3 separate regions of the Homo sapiens genome follow, and regions 1 and 2 are each linked to region 3. The links come from fine-mapping of genetic effects on gene expression. A gene starts in region 3. Each other region holds a variant in brackets. All regions are shown on one strand. Distances are between the middles of the regions. Region 1 has its middle 8.9 kb from the start of SPINK8. Region 2 overlaps SHISA5 (shisa family member 5). Region 3 holds the start of USP4 (ubiquitin specific peptidase 4).

Region 1 (2,848 bases), 1.0 Mb after region 3:
TTCACCCACCACTCACTCACTGACTCACCCAGAGCAACTTCCAGTCCTGCAAGCTCTATTCATGATAAGTGCCCTATATAAATGGTACCATTTTTATCTTTTATACCATATTTATGCTGTACCCTTTTTATGTTTGGATATGTTTAGGTACAGAAATACTTACCTCATGTCACAATTGCCTACAGTACTCAGTACAGTAACATACTATACAGGTTTGTAGTCTAAGAGCCATACACTGTACCATAGTAGGCTATACCACTTAGGATTGTGTAAGTACACTCTATGATGTTCACACAACGATGAAATCGCCTAATGACGCATTTCTCAGAACGTATCCCCATCATTAAGTGATGCATGACTATAGTTAGATGAGATCATCAAAGCAATTATCAGATGAATTATGTTTAATATATGTTCGTCTACCACCTTCCCTCTGGGCCCTGGCTGGATGAGCCTGATGTATTTTTTTTCGTTGAGAAAATAATTCGCTTGAATGCTCATGAACAGGCTTACAGTCCCATTTGTATCGTCTTCAGTTAAGGATTAGTGGGCCTGAGAAAGTGTCCATCACTGCTGAGTCTGAGCCTATCACTGTATGTTGAACACCATGAAATCACTGGCTATGAAGTTCTTAAGAGAAGAAAGCAAACCTAACACTTGACAGTAACATCGGAGTTACTGGCCTTATTTTCATATAGCATATAAAGCTGAGACATTTCCACTCATACTTGACTTTTATGATCACCTTTATCCCATCACACATCCAAAATGTGACCTTGTCATCTTCTCTAAGCTCTAACAGACTCTAAAATATTGCAACATGAAAAGTGCCATGTCAGAGTAATGCCAAAGTGGCAGTGCTGCGTTGCTCGTGCAAAAAAAAAACTGTCAAAGTTTAGAGAGTGAGAGTGTACATGGATTTTAGGGAGACTGTTTCCTCAATTTTTAATCAAGTTCAGAGGCCAATGGATGATAATAAATCCATCCAGGCTTCTTCTGAGCTGTATTTACACTGCATTGTGCTTTTCCTCTTAAGCAATCTACTCTTTCTAATCATCTCAGCTCATATCTGTGTTCAAAGACCTGCTGTTTTAGAGAAGTACATGTTTTATGTAACATATGTATGCATTGTATATAATTGACATATATGTATATTATGACACATATATTATATATATATATATCATTTTTTTGAAGCACCTAATACCAAATCAATCCCTTTGGAAATTAAGCTTATATAGTGAGTCGTTATCTTTCACTAAATGATTATTGCCTATTTTGTTAGTCTTCAGTTTTTCTGTTTCAGATTCCTGCCCACTTTTATTGTTTGTTTATTTTTCTTAACTCCTTTTCTCTTACTTATTTGAGTGCTGTTATCCTGGCTTCTCTCTTTATCACAGATCCTTCTGTAGATTTTAAAAATCCGTTTTAGAAACTATTTTCATTTGTCATTTTTCATTATTTAGTCTTTAATGTTAGTCCAGCATTGATTCACTGAGGGAAAAAATCCTTCAATAGAAACATATAATCAAACATCACTCTTACCTTTATAAAAAAACAAAACTTCAAGGCCAGGCACAGTGGCTCACGCCTGTAATCCCAGGACTTTGGAAGGCC[G/A]AGGCAGGCGGATCATGAGGTCAGGACTTCGAGACCAGCCTGACCAACTGGTGAAACCCCGTCTCTACTAAAAATACAAAAATTAGCTGGGCATGGTGGCACACGCCTGTAATCTGAGCTACTCGGGAGGCTGAAGCAGAAGAATCACTTGAATCTGGGAGGCAGAGTTTCCAGTGAGCCGAGATGGTGCCACTGCACTCCAGCTTGGGCAACAGAGCGAGACTCCATAGCAAAACAAAACAAAACAAAAAGAAAAACAAAACAAAACTTCTTAATATTTCATCTCTACTATTACTATTCTGTGGAGCTCTAACTATCCATTCGCTCACTTCTTTTCTCTCTCTCTCTCTCTCTCCTTCTTTCTCCACCTGCTCAGCTGCTTATGTTTCTTTTTCTTTTTTTTCTTTTTTTTTGAGATGGAGTCTTTGTCACCCAGGCTGGAGTGCAGTGGCACATCTCGGCTCACTGAAACCCCTGCCTCCCTTGTTCAAGCGATTCTCCTGCCCCAGACTCTGGAGTAGCTGGGATTACAGGCACGTGCCACCATGCCTGGCTAATTTTTGTATTTTTGGTAGAGACGAGGTTTCACCACATTGGTCAGGGTGGTCTCGAACTCCTGACCTCAGATGATCCACCCTCCTCAGCCTCCCAAAGTGCTGAGATTATAGGCATCAGCCACCATGCCCAGCATGCTTGTCTTTAAATATCTTAAAAATATGCTGGCTTTCTATAATATGGCAAAATCTAAGTTGTTTGATTCCATGCCTTTGCGTTCTATGTCTCAAACTTAAATGATTTTCTAATCCAGACTCTCTTGTCACATTAAATATTCCATTAAATATGTACTTTGAAACTGGGATAATTTTCTTTTAATAAACACGCACATTTAGCATTCTATATCTTACCACTTTCTGAGAACTTGGAATGGAATATTCTGCAGTGTGGGTTAGATCTGGAAAGGGTTCAGATATTCTGAACCTTTCTGTCCCTGACTACTTAGATTTCATTTAGGATAATCTTCTAAGAATACCCATTTGCTGTTTAACACTGACTCTAATTAAAGTTGATTTTTAAAGTGTTTTATTTTATTTTATTTTGAGATGGAGTCTTGCTCTGTCACCCATGCTGGAGTGCAGTGGCACGATCTTGGCTCACTGCAAACTGCCTCCCATGCTCAAGCAATTCTCATGCCTCAGCCTCCTGAGCAGCTGGATTACAGACACATACCACC
Region 2 (2,848 bases), 860 kb after region 3:
CACGATCTTGGCTCACTGCAACCTCCACCTCCCAGGTTCAAGCGATTCTCCTGCCTCAGCCTCCCTAGTAGCTGGGATTACAGGCATGCACCACCACGCTTGGCTAATTTTGTATTTTTAGTAGAGACGGGGTTTCTCCATGTTGGTCAGGCTGGTCTTGAACTCCTGACCTCAGGTGATCCGCCCGCCTTGGCCTCCCAAAGTGCTGGGATTACAGGCGTGAGCCACCGTGCCCGGTCTCACACTGGTTTCTTTTCTTTATTTCTTTTCGTTTTTTTGAGACTGAGTCTTGCTCTGTCCCCCAGGCTGAAGTGTAGTGGCATGATCACGGCTCACTGCAGCCTCTACCTCCCTCAAGTGATCCTCCTGCCTCAGCCTGTTGAGTAGCTGGGACCACATGCCCAGCCAACTTTTGTATTTTTTGTAGAGAAGGGGTCTCACCATGTTGCTCAGTCTGGTTTTGACTCCTGTGCTCAAGCGATTCTCTAGCCTCGGCCTCCCAAAGTACTACATGCCTGTAGGCACGAGCCATTGCACCTGGCCTCAGATTTCTTTTTTTGAGATGGAGTTTTGCTCTCATTGCCCAGGCTGGAGTGCAGTGGCGCCATCTCGGCTCACTGCAACCTCTGCCTTCTGGGTTCAAGCGATTCTCCTGCCTCAGCCTCCTGAGTAGCTGGGGCTACAGGCACCTGCCACCACGCCTGGCTAATTTTTTGTATTTTTAGTAGGGATGGGGTTTCACCATTTTGGCCAGGCCAGTCTCAAACTCCTGACCTCAGGTGATCTGCCTGCCTTGGCCTCCCAAAGTGCTGGGATTACAGGCATGAGCCACTGTGCCTGGCCTTCTTTATTTTTTGGTTTTGAGACAGTGTCTCGCTCTGTCGCCCAGGCTGGAGTAGCACAATCTCAGCTCACTGCAACCTCCGCCTCCTGGGTTCAAGCAATTCTCCTGTCTCCGCCTCCTGAGTAGCTGGAATTACAGGCAGGTGCCACCACGCCCCGCTAATTTTTGTATTTTTAGTAGAGACAGGGTTTCACCATGTTGGCCAGGCTGGTCTCAAACTCCTGATCTTAGGTGATCCGCCTGCCTCGGCTTCCCAAAGTGTAGGGATTACAGGCATGAGCCACCGCACCCAGCCCACATATTTCTTAAAAAATATTTTCTCCTCAGCTTTACTGGTTTTCCTCCAAGTGTATTAGGGTATAATTGTTTATAACGCTTTTACATTTTATTTTGTTTTACATCTAATTTTGGAAAGTTTCAAATAAGTACAAAAGCAGAGAGAACAATATAACTCAATGCATCCATCACCCACTTCCCGTTACCAATACTCTGACACCATTGTGCTATATATGTCCCACCACTTTTCTTTTTCTGAATTATTTTAAAGCAAATCCCAGACATCATAAAAAGTTCTTCTTAAATATTAGTATTTGGCTGGGTGCAGTGGCTCACACCTGTAATCCCAGCACTTTGGGAGGCTGAGGCAGGAGGATCACTTGAGTCCAGGAGTTTCAGACCAACCTGGGCAATATAGTGAGACCTTATGTCTACAAAAAATTCAAAAAATTAGCTAGGTGGGGTCAGCCCCCCGCCCGGCCAGCCGCCCTGTCCGGGAGGGAGGTGGGGGG[G/C]TCAGCCCCCCGCCCGGCCAGCCGCCCCGTCCGGGAGGGAGGTGGTGGGGTCAGCCCCCCGCCCGGCCAGCCGCCCCGTCCGGGAGGGAGGTGGGGGGGTCAGCCCCCCACCCGGCCAGCCGCCCCGTCCGGGAGGTGAGGGGCGCCTCTGCCCGGCCACCCCTACTGGGAAGTGAGGAGCCCCTCTGCCCGGCCACCACCCCGTCTGGGAGGTGTACCGAACAGCTCATTGAGAACGGGCCAAGGTGACAATGGCGGTTTTGTGGGATAGAAAAGGGGGAAAGGTGGGGAAAAGATTGAGAAATCAGATGGTTGCTGTGTCTGTGTAGAAAGAAGTAGACATGGGAGACCTTTCATTTTGTTCTATACTGAGAAAAATTCTTCTGCCTTGGGATCCTGTTGATCTATGACCTTACCCCCAACCCTGTGCTCTCTGAAACATGTGCTGTGTCCACTCAGGGTTAAATGGATTAAGGGCGGTGCAAGATGTGCTTTGTTAAACAGATGCTTGAAGGCAGCATGCTCCTTAAGAGTCATCACCACTCCCTAATCTCAAGTACCCAGGGACACAAACACTGCTGAAGGCCGCAGGGTCCTCTGCCTAGGAAAACTAGAGACCTTTGTTCACTTGTTTATCTGCTGACCTTCCCTCCACTATTGTCCTATGACTCTGCCAAATCCCCCTCTGCGAGAAACACCCAAGAATGATCAATAAAAAAAAAAAAAAAATTAGCTAGGTGGGATGGCATGTGCCTGTAGTCCCAGCTACTTGGGAGGCCGAGGTGGGAGGATCACTTGAGCCCGGGAGGTCATAGCTGCAGTGAGCTGTGATCACACCACTGCATTCCAGCCTGGGTGACAGATGAGACCCTGTGTCAAAGAGAAAAAGGCCGGGCACGGTGGCTCACACCTGTAATCCTAGAATTTTGGGAGGCCAAGATGGGTGGATCACAAGGTCAGGAGTTCGAGTCCAGCCTGACTAACATGGTGAAACCCCATCTCTACTAAAAATACAAAAATTAGCCGGGTGTGTGGCACATGCCTGTAATCCCAGCTACTCAGGAGGCTGAGGCAGGAGAATCGCTTGAACCTGGGAGGCAGAGGTTGCAGTGAGCCGAGATTGCACCACTGCACTCCAGCCTGGGCGACAAGAGACGAGACTCTGTCTCAAAAAAAAAAAAGTGAGTTTTCATTGCTAAAAATGAGGTCCTTGAAG
Region 3 (2,500 bases):
AACCACCGCGCCGGACGCCCGGTCTTTTTTTTTTTTTTTTTTTAAGACATTTCGGTCTCCACGTTGGTCAGGCTGGTCTCGAATGCCCGACCTCAGGTGATCCTCCTGCCTCGGCCTCCCAAAGTGCTGGGATTACAGGTGTGAGCCACCGCGCCCGGCCGGTTCACACCCTTTATTTGTATTTATTTTTTTTTTTTTGAGACAGGGTCTCACTTTGCCGTCCAGTCTCAAGTGCAGTGGCGCCATCTCGACTCACTGCAACCTCGACCTCCTGGGCTCAAGGGATCTTCCTACCTCAGCCTCCCAAGTACCTGGGACCACAGACGCGAGCCACTGCCCGGCTATTTTTTGTATTTTTTTGTAGAGACGGGATTTCGCTATGTTGCCGAGGTTGGTCTCTAACTCCTGGGCTGAACCTATCCTTCCGCCTCAGCCTCCCAAAGTGCTGGGACGACAGGCTTGAACCACCGCGCCCGGCCTGGTTCACACACTTTAATGGCACTTACCACATACTGCTAGGCATTGAGGTTATTTCTGTAACATCTCTTCTTTTCTACTAGATTCTATGAGGGCAGGAACTAGGTCTTATTTTTCTCTGAGGACAAGGACTGTTAGACAAGTGTATGGAGACGCATCTAGACCAACTGCCTGACTTCCTCTTTCCTCTGGGTTTACTTCTCCCTCCAAGAGGAGGGTTGTGTGTGTGAGCGGGGCGACTGGAAAACATAGTGTTCAGGACGTTGTATCTTGTTCCAGGAACTAAGTACACGCCTGGGTAACTAATGTGGAGTACCTCTCCTTCCCCTGTTGCTATCGCCCCTCTGTGGCTGCTTGGCAAGTAGCTCAGTATGAAGAGCTGACGGAATTCTGCGGTGGGCCAGGTGGCTCTGGCGTCGACTGTTTAAGGCGACTGTTAATGACTACAACACACCATTGAGTCTTGGTCCCAAGGCGCTGGTGCACATGGTACTTCCCGAAATCCCTGTAGGGCCGCTGGAGCAGGAGCCCCGATCCCACGTTTGGGCAGCTGACTCGCCTAAGGCCTCCAGCTGAAAGCGGAATTGCAGGGGTGAGAATGAGCAGACCTAACTACCGGGCTTCTCGCACCTGGCCTGCATTTATTTAGGACCACGATAACCTCGAAGGCCAGGCTGGGGTGCCCGATGGGTCGTGGGCTTGCTGCCTAACTCCCTGAGATCGGCGGGCTGAACAGAGCTTCGAAGTGTAGCGCCATCCTGAGCAGAGGAAGGGGCGCCCGAAGGCCGCGTAGCGGGCGGCAGGGCGGGAGGAAGTAGCAGCTGCTGCTCCCCGCCCACCCCTCTCGCGTGTGCCTTTCCGCTCCACTGTTCGCCGGTGAGCTAGGTGGCGCGAGAGCGGAGGGGAGAAAAGACAGCGGCTGCAGGAGCCGAAGGCCGCGGCTCGAGGTGGGGCAGGGGCGGGCACGCGAGCGTGCGTGCGTGGGCGCGGTCTATAGCACGCCGCGCGCGGGGCGGATGTCCGGGCCGGCTGGGCCGGGGCCGCGGAGGAGATGGCGGAAGGTGGAGGCTGCCGTGAGCGACCGGATGCGGAGACTCAGAAGTCCGAGCTTGGACCCTTAATGAGGACCACACTCCAACGCGGGGCGCAGTGGTGAGCTCCCGGCTCGCTCTTCCTCTATGCAGAACCAGGGGCCGAGAAAAAGGGGCCTCCTTTTTCTCGGCTAGAGTAGGGGCTGGGCGGGGATGGTATGTAGTGACCCTGGAAGAGTAGCCTGACACCTGCCCCTCAGGAGAATAACTCCAGGATCAGCTCTGGGAAAGCGCAGGCGGGGCCTGAGTGTCGTCTCAGTTCATTTGGAGCCCTAGGGGGCGGGCCCGGCGGGGGCCAGGAGGAGGGATGTGGAGAAGGGGAAGGTTGGTGGGGACCCTAAGGGTGGGGAGAGCCCTTTACCATGAGGACTCGCCGTGTGACCTTGGGCGAAGGTGTCACAGACCTGGATTCCTCACTGTTAAAACCAGGATAGCAATATTTGGCTCACCGACCTCAGTGGGTTGAGGGGAAAATCAGAAGTAGATACTTTGTAACTTGTAAACTGCCAACAGATGTCAAGGTCAGAAGCTGAACAAATGTCTGAGAACCCCGATTATTTTGGTAGCAAGTGTCAAAAATATTTGCGGCAGCAGTGTCTTGGAGTGGGAGAGGAGGATAGCCTAGGTCCTGGAGCTAGATAGAAGATGAAGGGTCCAGAATTTAGAAGACCCAGGCTGAGTTATTAGGCATCTTAATAGATTGTTTAGTAGAGGGGACAATACTTTGTACTACTGGAGAGATTCCTGGGTGGTGTAATTGTGTAGGAGTAGAAAAACTAAGGCTAGACTTTGCATCGAGTATGATTGTTACCCATCTTGTTTGTTTTGTTTTGTTTTGAGATGGAGTTTCACTCTTGTTGCCCAAGCTGGAGTGCAGTGGCGTGATCTTGGCTCACGGCAACCTCCGCCTCCCGGGTTCAAGCGATTCTCCT

The links.
Region 1: its variant is fine-mapped to the expression of USP4 in whole blood (INTERVAL, PIP above 0.99).
Region 2: its variant is fine-mapped to the expression of USP4 in whole blood (INTERVAL, PIP above 0.99).

What each region holds. Positions count from the first base shown.
Region 1 is chr3:48,341,136-48,343,983 of GRCh38, reverse strand. No RefSeq gene overlaps it. Among named protein-coding and RNA genes, the nearest start is that of SPINK8, 8.9 kb to the right of the region's middle. The variant G/A (reference allele first, on the strand shown) is at 1,618.
Region 2 is chr3:48,482,605-48,485,452 of GRCh38, reverse strand. All of the region lies in intron 2 of SHISA5 (shisa family member 5), which reads left to right. Among named protein-coding and RNA genes, the nearest start is that of TREX1, 18 kb to the right of the region's middle. The variant G/C (reference allele first, on the strand shown) is at 1,633.
Region 3 is chr3:49,339,053-49,341,552 of GRCh38, reverse strand. It overlaps USP4 (ubiquitin specific peptidase 4), which reads left to right and starts at 1,500. Exons shown (of 22, transcript NM_003363.4): 1 at 1,500-1,629. The coding sequence starts at 1,529. RefSeq lists enhancers at 880-939, 1,030-1,199, 830-1,329 and a silencer at 1,370-1,559.